Linked DNA regions of Homo sapiens. The protein of the gene in region 2 interacts with the protein of the main gene of each other region in a pairwise test. Each region holds a gene or a part of one and is shown on either strand. Other genes may lie near its edges.

The links. Proteins that work in one complex are often made in the same cells at the same time.
Region 1: the proteins of KRTAP9-3 (region 2) and ZNF439 interact in binary tests that used the Homo sapiens proteins (3 or more experiments, as listed by UniProt).

Annotation. Positions count from the first base shown.
Region 1 is NC_000019.10:11,851,693-11,858,745, reverse strand, and holds part of ZNF439 (zinc finger protein 439), read right to left. Parts: intron 1-7,053. UniProt on the Homo sapiens protein: May be involved in transcriptional regulation.
Region 2 is NC_000017.11:41,228,210-41,234,007, reverse strand, and holds KRTAP9-3 (keratin-associated protein 9-3), read right to left. Parts: upstream 1,560-5,798; 5' UTR 1,507-1,559; coding exon 1,027-1,506; 3' UTR 554-1,026; downstream 1-553. UniProt on the Homo sapiens protein: In the hair cortex, hair keratin intermediate filaments are embedded in an interfilamentous matrix, consisting of hair keratin-associated proteins (KRTAP), which are essential for the formation of a rigid and resistant hair shaft through their extensive disulfide bond cross-linking with abundant cysteine residues of hair keratins.

The DNA of each region.
Region 1 (7,053 bases), on a different chromosome or scaffold from region 2:
GGATCAATGGCCCCTATCACAGGAGAAACTAACTCAACTTCAGCAGTAGAAAAAGAGCAACTGGATGCAGGCCATAAAGAGGAGTCGGTTAGCCACTGGAATTCACCAGTGTTTGTAATTCCAAAGAAGTCAGGAAGATGGCGACTGCTGCATGATTTGAGAGCTATTAATGCACAAATTAAACTGATGGGTGCATTACAACAAGGCTTGCCATCTGCAGCCGTCATTCCTAGAGACTGGCCTCTTGTAGCAATAGACCCCCTTTTTTTTTTTTTTTTCCGAGATGGAGTCTCGCTCTGTCGCCCAGGCTGGAGTGCAGTGGTGCGATCTCGGCTCACTGCAAGCTCCGCCTTCCGGGTTCACGCCATTCTCCTGTTTCAGCCTCCCAAGTAGCTGGGACTACAGGTGCCTGCCACCATGCCTGGCTAATTTTTTTTTTTTTTGTATTTTTAGTAAAGACGGGGTTTCACCATGTTAGGCAGGATGGTCTTGATCTCCTGACCTCATGATCCACCCACCTCGGCCTCCCAAAGTGCTGGGATTACAGGCGTGAGCCATTGCGCCCGGCATAGACCTTTCTTTACTATACCCTTACACGAGAAGGATAAGCCTGGATCTGCCTTCTCTGTGCCTTCTATTCATCCAAGAGAACCTGTTTCTCTTTATCAAAGGAAAGTTTTACCCCAAGACATGCTTTACAGTCCTACGCTGTCAGCATTTTGTAGGACAAACATTGAAGGAGACTCTGAATATGTTTCCTACTGCTCACATCATTCATTTCATGGATGACATTCTTTTGGCCACTCCTACAGATCAAATCTTACATCAGTTATTCAGAGAAAGGAAGCAGGCTTTGACTAAATGGAATCTCAAAATTGGTCCAGAGAAAGTACAAGCAACTTCCCCATACCATTACTTAGGCACTATTGTTACTGAAAGAAGTGTTCGGCCTCAGAAAGTAGTTCTCCATAAAGACAGGTTACAGATTTTAAATGATTTTCAACAGTTGTTAGGGGATATTCATTGGCTGTGCGCAATGCTAGGTATTGCAACTTATCGACTCAAACATCTTTATCAAACCCTGCAAGGAGATTCTTCATTAGATTTCCCCGCAGCAATTGACCAAAGAGGCAGAAGCTGAGTTGCAACTTGTAGAACAGATGCTTCAGCAGAGACATGCCTCATGGCTGTAGCCGCAAAAGCCTTTGCTTATTCTTCATACCCCTCATTCTCCAACAGGACTCCTGGGCCAGTGCTTAGACAAGTCTGTATCAGTAATAGAATGGCTCTTTCTACCTAATCAAACAGTTAAAACCTTGCAAGCCTATCTTCCTTTAATTACACAACTTGTGACTATAGGTAGGCATAAATTAAAAGTGCTTATGGGGTATGATCCAGACGCAATTATTGTTTCCTTGGATTCCCAACAACAGGCCACAGCATGGGAAATATCGACTGTGTAGCAAATTGCTCTTGCAGATTTTGTGGAAATAATAGACAACCACTCTCCATCGGACAAAGTTTTACAATTTTATAATGTCTATTATTTTATCTTCCCTGTGATTACTCATCACGAGCCTATTCCAGGTGGTCAGGCCTATTTTACCGATGGCTCTTCCAAAGGGCGTGCAGCTATGTTGGGACCTAAACATACTCAGACAATAAGGATCTCTGGACTTTCAGCTCAACGCTCAGAGTTAATTACAGTCATTCTAGTTTTAGAGCTCACAGCTTCAACTCCCATTAACATTGTCTGTGATTCAGCCTATGTCGTAAATGTAGCCAGTCGCATAGAAACTGCTACAATTAAAAGCACACTAGAGCCAGAACTGCTTAGCTTGTTTCTAAGACTTCAACAAGCTGTTCGCTCTCATGCTGCTCCTTTACATATTTCTCATATTTGCTCTCACATACAACTCCCTGGACCACTATCTCTAGGTAATGATAGAGCAGATAAACTGGTTTGTTCTGTATTTCAACAAGCTCAAACTTCTCAGGCAATACTGCCTCAAAACACCTCGCCCTTACTCGTATGTTTCACCTGCCTCACAGCCAGGCTCGAACTATGGCGCAAGCCTGTCCCACTTGTCAGCATGTCCCTGGTGTTATACCTGTGGAAGGATGCAATCCACAAGGCTTGGCTCCAAATGAAATTTGGCAGATGGATGTTACACATATAGCAGCCTTTGGCAAGCTTAGCTATGTTCATGTAACTATAGACACTTAATCTCATATGCTGCATTCTACATGCCAAACAGGCGAGACAGCTGCTCATGTGCGGTGACATTGTCGGTCATCATTTGCTCATATGGGGATCCCTAAACAATTAAAAACGGACAATGGACCTGCTTATACTTAGCCATGTTTTTCAAAACTTTTTACAGTTATGGGCAATCACCCACAAAACAGGAATACCTTACAATCCCTGAGGACAAGGCATTATAGAGTGGGCACATCAAACATTACAATGCATGTTGAAAAAACAGAAAGGGGGTATAGGAGACCAGCTACCACCTCAAATAAAATTACATTTAGCCTTATTTACTTTAAATTGTTTGACTCCTGGTCTGGATGGTAAGACTCCAGCAGAAAGACATTGGCAAGTGTTAGAGGAAAAGAGGAAAGTTTATCTGAAAGTGTTATGGAAATCCCTGGAAGAAGGACAATGGAAAGGTCCGGTGGATTTACTGACATGGGGATGAAGGTATGCTTGTGTTTCTACAGGAGATGGACACACCATGTGAGTGCCCTCAAGGTGCGTGCCACCATGGAACGGGAAACTGGAGGGACCCATGGTGGCCAACAATGGGCTTGGTCCCTCCGGTACAACCCATGAGCCAGCTGAGCCTGAGTGTGAAGACGGAGAGAAGGCTGACCGGAGTCACAACGACATCAACCCCCATAACCTGGGGACAACTCAAGAAAACCATGCAAGAAGCTGAGAAACTACTGGAGCGTCAGGGACAGGCAAAAACCCCTGATGCCATGTTCTTGGCCTGTCAGCCATAATGTCCTGTGCAGTATGTTTTCCCTGTACAGAGGTAAAAACATATTGGGCATATGTTCCCAATCCCCCAGCAGTACGGCCTATACTTTGGAGTGACGCTCTTTCTGAAATCTATCATGATCAGGGACCGTGGGCTCCAGGACCCCTAACTCCCCATGGCATAGAACAGTTAGACTCTTAGAACAATGTCATCAATTATACCACCCCACTAGAAGGACTCCCTTTGTGTATCACCACAGAGATGTCACTCAACAGTAGCTGTCTTATAATTCAAGCTCAAGCATGGTGGAATCACTATGGAAAAGTCATGTACTTATTATGTTTTGGTTCCATTAATGTAACTGGTGTGCTAACCAACCATTCCCGGCCCAGTCGCCCCACCTGTGCTGACTATATGGAATGGATTCCCTTCCATAGTTCCTACCCCCCTCCATGGACCCAGAGTCTTGGCCCATAGAAAACAATCTATGTTAACTGCAGACATTGTGGATTGGGGACCTAAAGGTCAACTACATGGAAAAGATGAAAATTAGAAATCATGGCACAAACTTGGCTGGCATTGGTGGTAAGCTTTTAATACTTCTTCTTTATACCACACCGGGATCCAATCCCAGTCTGCTGCCCAGATTGCTTGGTGTGGAGCAGGCTTTAGCTCACCTCTTCCTCAGTGGCATTATCCAGGCAGGCAAGGACCAATCCAAAAGACGTTATGGAAGGCAGCACCTTCATTTATGAATGGCAGCATCGGGGTTGGGATACTATCCAATAATAGCAATAGTAAGCAACACAGTTTTAATGCTACACTTGTAAAGAATATCACCACTCAGTTTACGGTTTGTGTTTTTAATCCTTATGTCTTTTTGGCAGCTAAGAAGGATTAGCTCCAGGTAAACAATACCCAATTGACCTGTAAATCTTGTCAGTTATATCACTACATTAATCATAGCACATTGCAAATACATAATATCTCTTTTTTTTTTTTGAGACAGAGCCTTGCTCTGTTGCCAAGCTTGAGTGCGGTGGCACGATCTCGGCTCACTGCAACCTCTGCCTCCTGGGTTCAAGCAATTCTCCTGCCTCAGCCTCCTGAGTAGCTGGGATTACAGGTGCCCGCCACCATGCCTGGCTAATTTTTGTATTTTTAGTAGAGACGGGGTTTCACCATGTTGGCCAGGCTGGTCTCGAACTCCTGACCTTGTAATCCACCTGCCTTGGCCTCCCAAAGTGCTGGGATTACAGGCGTGAGCCACTGTGCCTGGCCACAAACACATAATATCTCTACTTTGATGATTTTGGGTTGCATCCCTGGGCTATGGATTCCCATTAATCTGTCCAAGCCTTGGGCTGCCACCCCTGCTTTGCACTTTGTGAAACTTCTTCTAACTCAGCTTACTCATCGTGCCCGTAGAGCCTTAGGCATGATAATTTTGGCTATTGTTTCCTTGGTCACACCAAAAACTTCTGTTGTGATGTACTCCATCACTTTGCATAGTTCTATTCAAACAGTTCAGTACGTGCAGAACTGGATGCATACAGCCAACCAAGTGTGGCTACTTCATAATAGAATTAACACTGAGTTACAAACTGAAGTGGCAATGTTGAAATCCATAGTTCTATGGTTAGGGGAACAAGCACAAAGCTTACAATTGCAACAGCAATTGTGCTGTCATCTTAATGCCACTCATATTTGTGTAAACAACTTAGAATACAACCAAAGTGAGCATCCACGGGACCTTTGATATTGGTGAACTGCAAAACAAAATTCTTGACTTAAATAAGCAAACTCAAGAGTTTCAGCCTTCCTTAGAAGTCTGGAGTGAATTCCTGCAAGGCCTAGAGAGCCTCAATATTTGGACCAATCTAAAGCACTATATTAACATCTCATATATAGTTATTGGAATGATGTTGTTTAGTCTCTGTTTTTTGTTCATAGTCTGTAAAATCAGATGGACCGCCAATCAGAAAATGAGAGCTGCCCAACCTGGCCTTACATTCATTCAATTAATGCATAAACAGAAAGGGAGAGATGTTGGGAGCCCAAGGCCCAAAGGTTGTGACCAACTCAGCTTTCCACTGAAGGCTATATGATAAACAGTGAACTGTTTATCATGAATGCAGAATGTGGGCAAACTCACATCTGCTTCTGCTGCCAGAAGGTATACTGAGGACAATCACTCCCTGGTGCTGTGCTGCTTGAGGTTATCTACTGGGACATCTGGAGCCTATTGTTTGAAAAATGCAGTCATGCAGGCCTGCTCTAAATCAAGTAGCTGACCTACAACCACCCGCTTCTCTCTATCCCCTTTACTCAGTAAACATGAAGGGTGCTAGAAGCTCGGGGCCCACGTTCACTACAAGCAAGAAGCCCCCTGACCCCTTGTTCCAAACATATTCTTTTGCCTTTGTCTTTATTCCCGCATTCGTCCTCCTTTGTTCAATCCAGTAGGGTCCGTGGTACCTAACGACCCTGAAATCAAATTGAAATACAACTCTTGAAAATTACTAATTTAGGCCAGGCGTGGTGGCTCACACCTGTAATCCCAGCACTTTTGAGAGTCCAAGGCAGGTGGATCACGAGGTCAAGAGTTCGAGACCAGCCTGGCCAACATGGTGAAACCAAGTCTCTACTAAAAATACAAAAATTAGCCAGGCGTGGTGGCAGGCGCCTGTAATCCCAGCTTCTCAGGAGGCTGAGGCAGGAGAATCGCTTGAAACTGGAAGGCAGGGGTTGCAGTGAGCCGAGATTGCACCACTGCACACCACCCTGGGCAACAAGAGTGAAACTTCGTCTCAAAAAAAATAAATAAATAAAATTACTAATTTATAGAAAAATGAAATTTATGCTTAATCAGGCACAGTCCACCAATTAACCTCTGATTACATAACTAGAAATTTTCTACCTATATAGGCTGTTGGAAGAAGTAAGTCAGGCCAGCCATGGTGGCTCACACCTGTAATCCCGCCACTTTGGGAGGCCAAGGTGGGTGGACCACTTGAGGACAGGAGTTGGAGACCAGCCTGGCCAATGTGATAAAACCCTGTCTTTACTAAAAATACAAAAATTAGCCGAGTATGGTGGCATGTACCTGTAATCCCAGCTACTTGGGAGGCTAAGGCAGGAGAATTACTTGAACCTAGGAGGTGGAGGCTGCAGTGAGCTGAGATTGCACCACTGCACTCCAGCCTAGACGACAGAGTGAGACCCCGTCTCAAGACAAACAAACAAACAAAAACAACCAAGTAATTCAAATATTTAAGCTGGTGCATCTCTAAACTGTCTTGAAGCAATGTGATCATGGGGTTGAGTCACATGACACACAGCTTTCAAATAGCCAGCTGGAACACCTCTTTCCTTGATTACAGATTCGCCTTCCTTCTTACCTATACTGTTTTATAAAATGTTGTAAATGACTGAAGGGAAACAGGAAAGACCCTTTCCCTCTTTGCTATTTTTAATTTATTTAATATGATTTTTCACAATTGAGATGGGGGGTCTCACTATGTTGCCCAGGCTTGAACTCCTGAGATCAAGCCATCCACCTGCCTCAGCCTCCCAAAGTGCTGGGGTTACAGGTGTGAGCCATCCCACTGGGCCCCTCTTCACTACTGATCTCTGTAGTAGACTAACTTCCCTCTTAACTTTCTCACACAAAGACTTCATGGCTATCACATTGTCTTCAGTTGGAATGTTGAATTCACTCTTTTAAATTGAAAAGGAAATAAAAACCAGCTAGAAAGAAAAGAAAACAAGCTCTGGGGGAAAAAAGCAAACGATAACAAATTAAGTTGTTAGCCAGGTGCACTGGCTAACGCCTGCAATCCCAAGACTTGTGGAGGCCAAAGAAGGAGGACTGTTTGAGGCCAGGAGCTAGAGACAAGCCTGGGCAATGTATCGAGACCCCACCTCCATAAAAAATTAAAAATTACCCAGGTGTGGTAGTGGGCGACTATAGTCTCAGCTACTTGGGAGGCGGAGGTGCTCAAGATGGGGAAGTCAAGGCTGCAGTAAGCCGTGATGGCACCACTGCTCCAGCCTGGGCCACAGA
Region 2 (5,798 bases):
TTTACATCACACTGAGAATAAGTTTCTTCAGATGAGGCTCCGTCTCCTGAGTCCACAATAAATTCTCAAGCATTTTTTGATGCAGATGAATTGAATGAATGGCTGGTCAGAGGCTCAGACAAAAAGATCTCTGCATTCAGGGCAGCCATTAAATGCATATCATGCAGCCTTTGCTCACTGAGGTGTGGGGAACTACTTTGGGATTTTTTTGTGTGTGAACAAAAGTGTTATCTGCAAATATGTCAGATTATTCCTCTCATTGTTAAATAAACTCAAGTACATGTCTTGCTAGTGCTGACTTCCAGTGTCTTTTCTACTATATTGGGAGTTAAACGTAAGTGTCCTTGGGCAGAAAGAGAGGACCTCACCTTTGACCAGAGTCTGCCCTTTACTAGCTACATAACATCACACATTAAATTGTTCTCAGCTGAAAAAATGGAGTTAATAATACACGACCATCTGTTTTGAGAATCAAATTGGATAATACCTATGGTATGTGATATGTGTGTAAATCCCATATCAGGAATGCTTTCAAATAAAACAAAACACTATATGAGATGAAGATGGTTCAGAGTTTATTCAGAAACATATAGGTAAGAATCTCTGCTACCAGAGACATAACCCAAAGTTATCGTGAAAAGAAGAAAGAAGGATACAAGAACCATGAGAAGGATATTTAAAATGAAAATATAATTGCAAAGATGATTGATCAGTTGCAGAAACCTAAATTCCTTAGAAGCAAAGAATGAAGCTCTTGATTTTTGAGACAAAGCTGAGATCATGACTCCAAATTAAGAACAGACGAAGCTGGCACATGATCCACAAGGTGTAAGGAAAGAGGGAATGAGGATGAAGTATTCTGCCCTCCCTCAAGCAGATTCCCAAGATTTTAAACATGTAGAGAATTCATAAAAATTTGGGTGAGAGCATGGTGGCTGTCAGCAGCAAAGTAAATTAGTCCCTCAAAAGACAAGTCAGTTGAGCTGAAGGTTGTTGTGTGAGGATGGTAGTTCTCTTGGGAGTTGATTAGCAGCAAGAAGGCTGGCAGCAGCTGTACACACAGGTGGGCTGGAAACAAGTGGTCCTGCAGCAGGTGGTCTCACAGCAGGCTGGGCGGCAGCAGGGCTGGCAGCAGTTGGAGCCACAGCTCTGGTTTAGGCAACCAGGCAGACAAACACTTGTGGGGTGGTAGCAGGTTCTTCTGCAGTACACAGGTGCACAGGAGCTGCTCTGACCACAGCTGGACCCACAGCATGTGGGCTGGCAGCAGGGTGTGCTACAGCAGGAAGGCTGGCAGCAGCTGGTCACACAGATGGGCTGGCAGCAGGTGGTCCTACAGCAGGTGTTTTGACAGCAAGTTGGGTGGCAGCAAGGCTGGCAGCAGCTGGAAACACAGCAGGAGGGCTGACAGCAGGGTGTGCTGCTGCAGGTGGTCACAGTGGTGGGCTGCCAGCAGGTGGTCCTGCAGCAGGTAGGCTGACAGCAAGGGGAGCAACAGTGGGTCATGGTGTCAGGGATGGAGGGTGGGCTTCTGTTAAGAGGTGAGTTTCCCAAAATCTGATGACCCCTTGCAATCTGGACCTTTTATACACCTGGCCTCCAAAGTTTCCACCAATCAGCAGGACTTTTCCTTGTTGCTGTTTACATTGTTTTCCACAGTCCATTTGGGATTGTCAAAGGGGAAGTTGTTACTGAAATCTTATGAACCTTTTAAACTAAGGGTTTAATCTGTTTCTTAATTGTGAGTTACTCATAGAAAGTTTGTTTCAGATAAAAGGAAGCCCGTCTCATCATCAGCATCATTCCTGCTCTGACCATCATCTGGTCATGTGACAGTTCCTGTTGATCCGGGGGGCTCAGGAAGTTCTCTCTGGCCAGCCTCATGTTTGGCTGTATATAGACTTGGAAGTGTCTGTGGGGAGAAGCATGATGCTGATATATTTACAGTGACAAAATGAATCCATGCCTGGGCCCAAGACTATTCACCCACCAAATTCTGACTCAAGACTAACAGGCATCTCTTTGTGCCACCCACATCATCTGTGTCTTTCAGTTCTTTGAATGTCACTTGGGAAGACGGTGACTGCACAGTGTGTTCCATGCGACAGAGCAGATCGAGAACAGGTGGATGCAGAGAAATCTGCTGAGATTTAGACAGCATCAAGCAATGTATGCCCTAGGACGACCATTCATTCTGACTTGTCTGGGAGTGTGGGGATTTCCGGGATGAGAATGGAGGACTTTCTATCACGTAACTTCTTGAGATTCAGGCCAACCAGCATGTGCTCTGGCTCTAGCCCTAAACCTAGTTACTAGCAGTAACTAGAAGTAAGCGTTGAAATTCAGGCCAACCAGCATGTGCTGTGGCTCTAGCCCTAAACCTAGTTACTAGCAGTAACTAGAAGAAGAAGTAAGTAGAAGTAATTTCTTCTATTTCTTTTCAATGAAGGGATTAGATGAGTTGAGATGACACCTGATTCATCGTGGAGTTCTAACATGTTGAAAACATTGTCTAGGTATATCATTCACTTGAGAAGAATGCAAATTATTAATTTCCAACCTGATATAGTATTACATTGTAAATACATCTATGTCCCCATTACCAGGTTAGGAAATAGAAATTAATGCCATTCTCTCCCAATTATATCCGCTTACTCATTTCCAAACAGCTAATCACTCTATCAAGTTATAATCCAGTAGATGACTTTGGCTTTTTAAAATTTCCATGTGAATAAAAATTATAGTATTTGCTTCTCTGTTTCTTTGTTATAATCAAAAGGAATCGTTATCGCCTAGTCATTTTGGACTCTTCCCGTCAGCAGAGCAGCAGACAGAGAAAGGAGTTACTATTTGGTGAGGGGTAATTATCTTTAAGCCATATAGTGTAGCAGAATATATCTATAGCTCAGGATACTTAGTAAGTGTATTAACTTACCAGCACTGCCATAATAAATTACTGTAAACCAAGTGGCTTAAATTTATCTTTTCACAGTTCAGAAATTAAGGTTTTGGCAATGTTGTTTTCATCTGAAGCCTGTGAGGGAAGTACATGTTCCAGGTCTCTCTCCTTGACTTGTTGATGTCTATCATTTCCATGTGTGTTTGATATAATTTTTCTGTTATATGCATGCTGTCTCTGAATTTCCCCCTTTTATATAGACATCAGTCATATTTAATCAGAGGCCTAATTGTTTCCAATATGACCTTGCCTTATCACATAACACTTTAAATGATTCTATTTGAATATGAGTTTTGGGGGACACAAATTAACCCATAACACTGGAGAATCTCATAGTGTGTCCATGTCCAGTGATAACTACAAATCGGTAAGAACAGCAATCACAGTGGACAGTGGTATAGTAACTAGAGGCTCAGACAATTTAGGAAGGAAGTTATCAAGGCAGTTATCAGGCAGTTATCCAGACCAAGAAGAGTGCTGGCCAGCGGTGAAGGGAGAATAGAACTGGTGGTAATAAACGGAGACTGTGAATCTCAGGTGCACTGTACTATAGCAGCAGTAAGTGTAGCTTATTTCATTGGCCTTCATTTTACATCTCACTTCCTCTCCTTTCTTTTCATTTCCTTCTTCTCTCTCCTTCCTCTTCCTTCCTTTCTTCCTTCCTTTCTTCTTCTTTCTTTCTTTCTCTTTCTTTCTTTCTCTTTCTTTCTTTCTTCTTTCTTTCTTTCTCTCTTTCTTTCTTTCTCTCTCTCTCCCTTCCTTCCTTCTTTTTCTCTTTCTCTCTCTCTCTTTCTTTCTTTTGTCCTCCACTCATCTTCTGTCCCTTCTCTTACTCCTCTTTCTCACCTCCTCTTCTTCCTTCTTCTAGAGCTTGTGCCTGTCCATCACATTTAAGTAGCAAAGGTTTTACTTGAGTGGAGCTAATTGTAGATCATAGATAAGTTTTCATGACTGCACCCATATATATTAGATCTTAGTGTGCTTGGACTAATTTCCATCTGTTAGAATCTGCATCTCTGTGCCTAAGAGCTCTTGTATTGCTGCTGTAAGAAGTCATGTCACCTGTGAATGCAACACAGAGAAAAACTCTCAACCAATGATTCTGGAGAGCTGATTTATAAAGACTCTAGCTTCCTCATTCCTGAAGTAGGATAACTCTAGCTGTGTGTTTTTTTGTCATTTCTGATAGTTTTCCCTTTAGTTTAAGCTTTAGTTGGTGACTGTGATACTGACTTGATAGTGTACCCTTTTCTGTATCACTTCCCCAATCCCTACCAGTGTGATCTGCACTTCCGAATAAACTAGTTTCACTGGAATGCTTTCCTCAGAGTCTCTTCTGGGAGAAACTAATCTATGACAATACACTAACTCTCTCAGCCTCAATTTTTTCATCTCTACAAAGGGAACATTAATACCTGTTTTGAAAGTTTGTTAAAGAATTAATAATAGCCGGGTGCAGTGGCTCACGCCTGTAATCCAAGCATTTTGGGAGGCCGAGGCGGGCGGATCACAAGGTCAGGAGATCGAGACCATCCTGGCTAAAATGTTGAAACCCCGTCTCTACTAAAAATACATAAAATTAGCCGGGCGTGGTGGCGGGTGCTTATAGTCCCAGCTACTCGAGAGGCTGAGGCAGGAGAATGGCATGAACCAGGGAGGCAGAGCTTGCAGTGAGTCAAGATTGTACCACTGCACCCCAGCCTGGGTGACAGAGCAAGACTCCATCTCAAAAAAAAAAAAAAAGAATTAATAATAGTGTACACAAAGCATTTAGCCAATATGTCTCCTATAGCAGGCAGCCCAGAATTAGTGTTTTTGTTCAGAAAATTTCTAATTTTAATGTTGAAGATAAGAATATTTTTGTAATAATTAACCAGATCAACCAAATACTTTTTCGAGCTGTATTGAGGTGTAATTGACAAATAAAAATTGTGTCTATTTCAGGTATGGAAGATGATGCTCTAATATATATATCCATTGTGAATAACATGTTTATTAGCCCACGTAGTTACCATTTCCTTTTTATTTTTGTGGTGTGAACATATAAGATCTAACTTCTTGGCAAATTTCAGGTGTATGATACAGTGTTTACAACTATAGTGACACTACTGTACAGTAGACATGCTGAACTTATTCACCTTTCATAACTGATGCTAGTCAAAAGGAATGTCCTAGTTTTCATGTCCTTTACTTCATCCCTGAACGATGATCACAGTAAGTGGCCTTCATCCCTCAGCCAAGTCTTCAGAGCATTCTAGATTCACAGTCTCAGAAGTTGGCATCTGTCATGGAAATCTACATTGTTAGCTCATCAGAGGTATTTCTACCACTCCCATGCTGGTAGGAGGTCGCAAGAAGGTGACCCAGGTCCCCAAACTTTGTATTTCTCTCAGAGCCAGTATCAATCTATCTTTCCCTGAGTGAATGCTTAGCTTGCACCAGTTCAGAACCAAAAGCACCAACCTCTGTCTATCATGACTTCTATGAATGCACACGTTCTACTTTGCTCCTTTCTTACATTCTTCTGATTTCCCTGCAAACACCGTTTTCAGTTTCTTTAGATGCCTCATATTGGTCTTACAAAATTCAGAAGGTTCTTTCATTCCCTTCCTTGGTTTAGAGATTATGGATTGTGCCACGTCTTACATACCCATTGCGTACTTTCTCAATTCCCAGCTTAATTCCTTACTTAATTTTCCTCATAACATTTCGATTAGGGGACAAATTGTCTTAATGTGGCATAAGGTGTGGTCTGTATTTTACAAGGAATAACTTAGTTTCATTGACTTTGTCAACAGGTATTCAGGAGGGGGAGGCTGTGTAAGAATTTTATTTACAT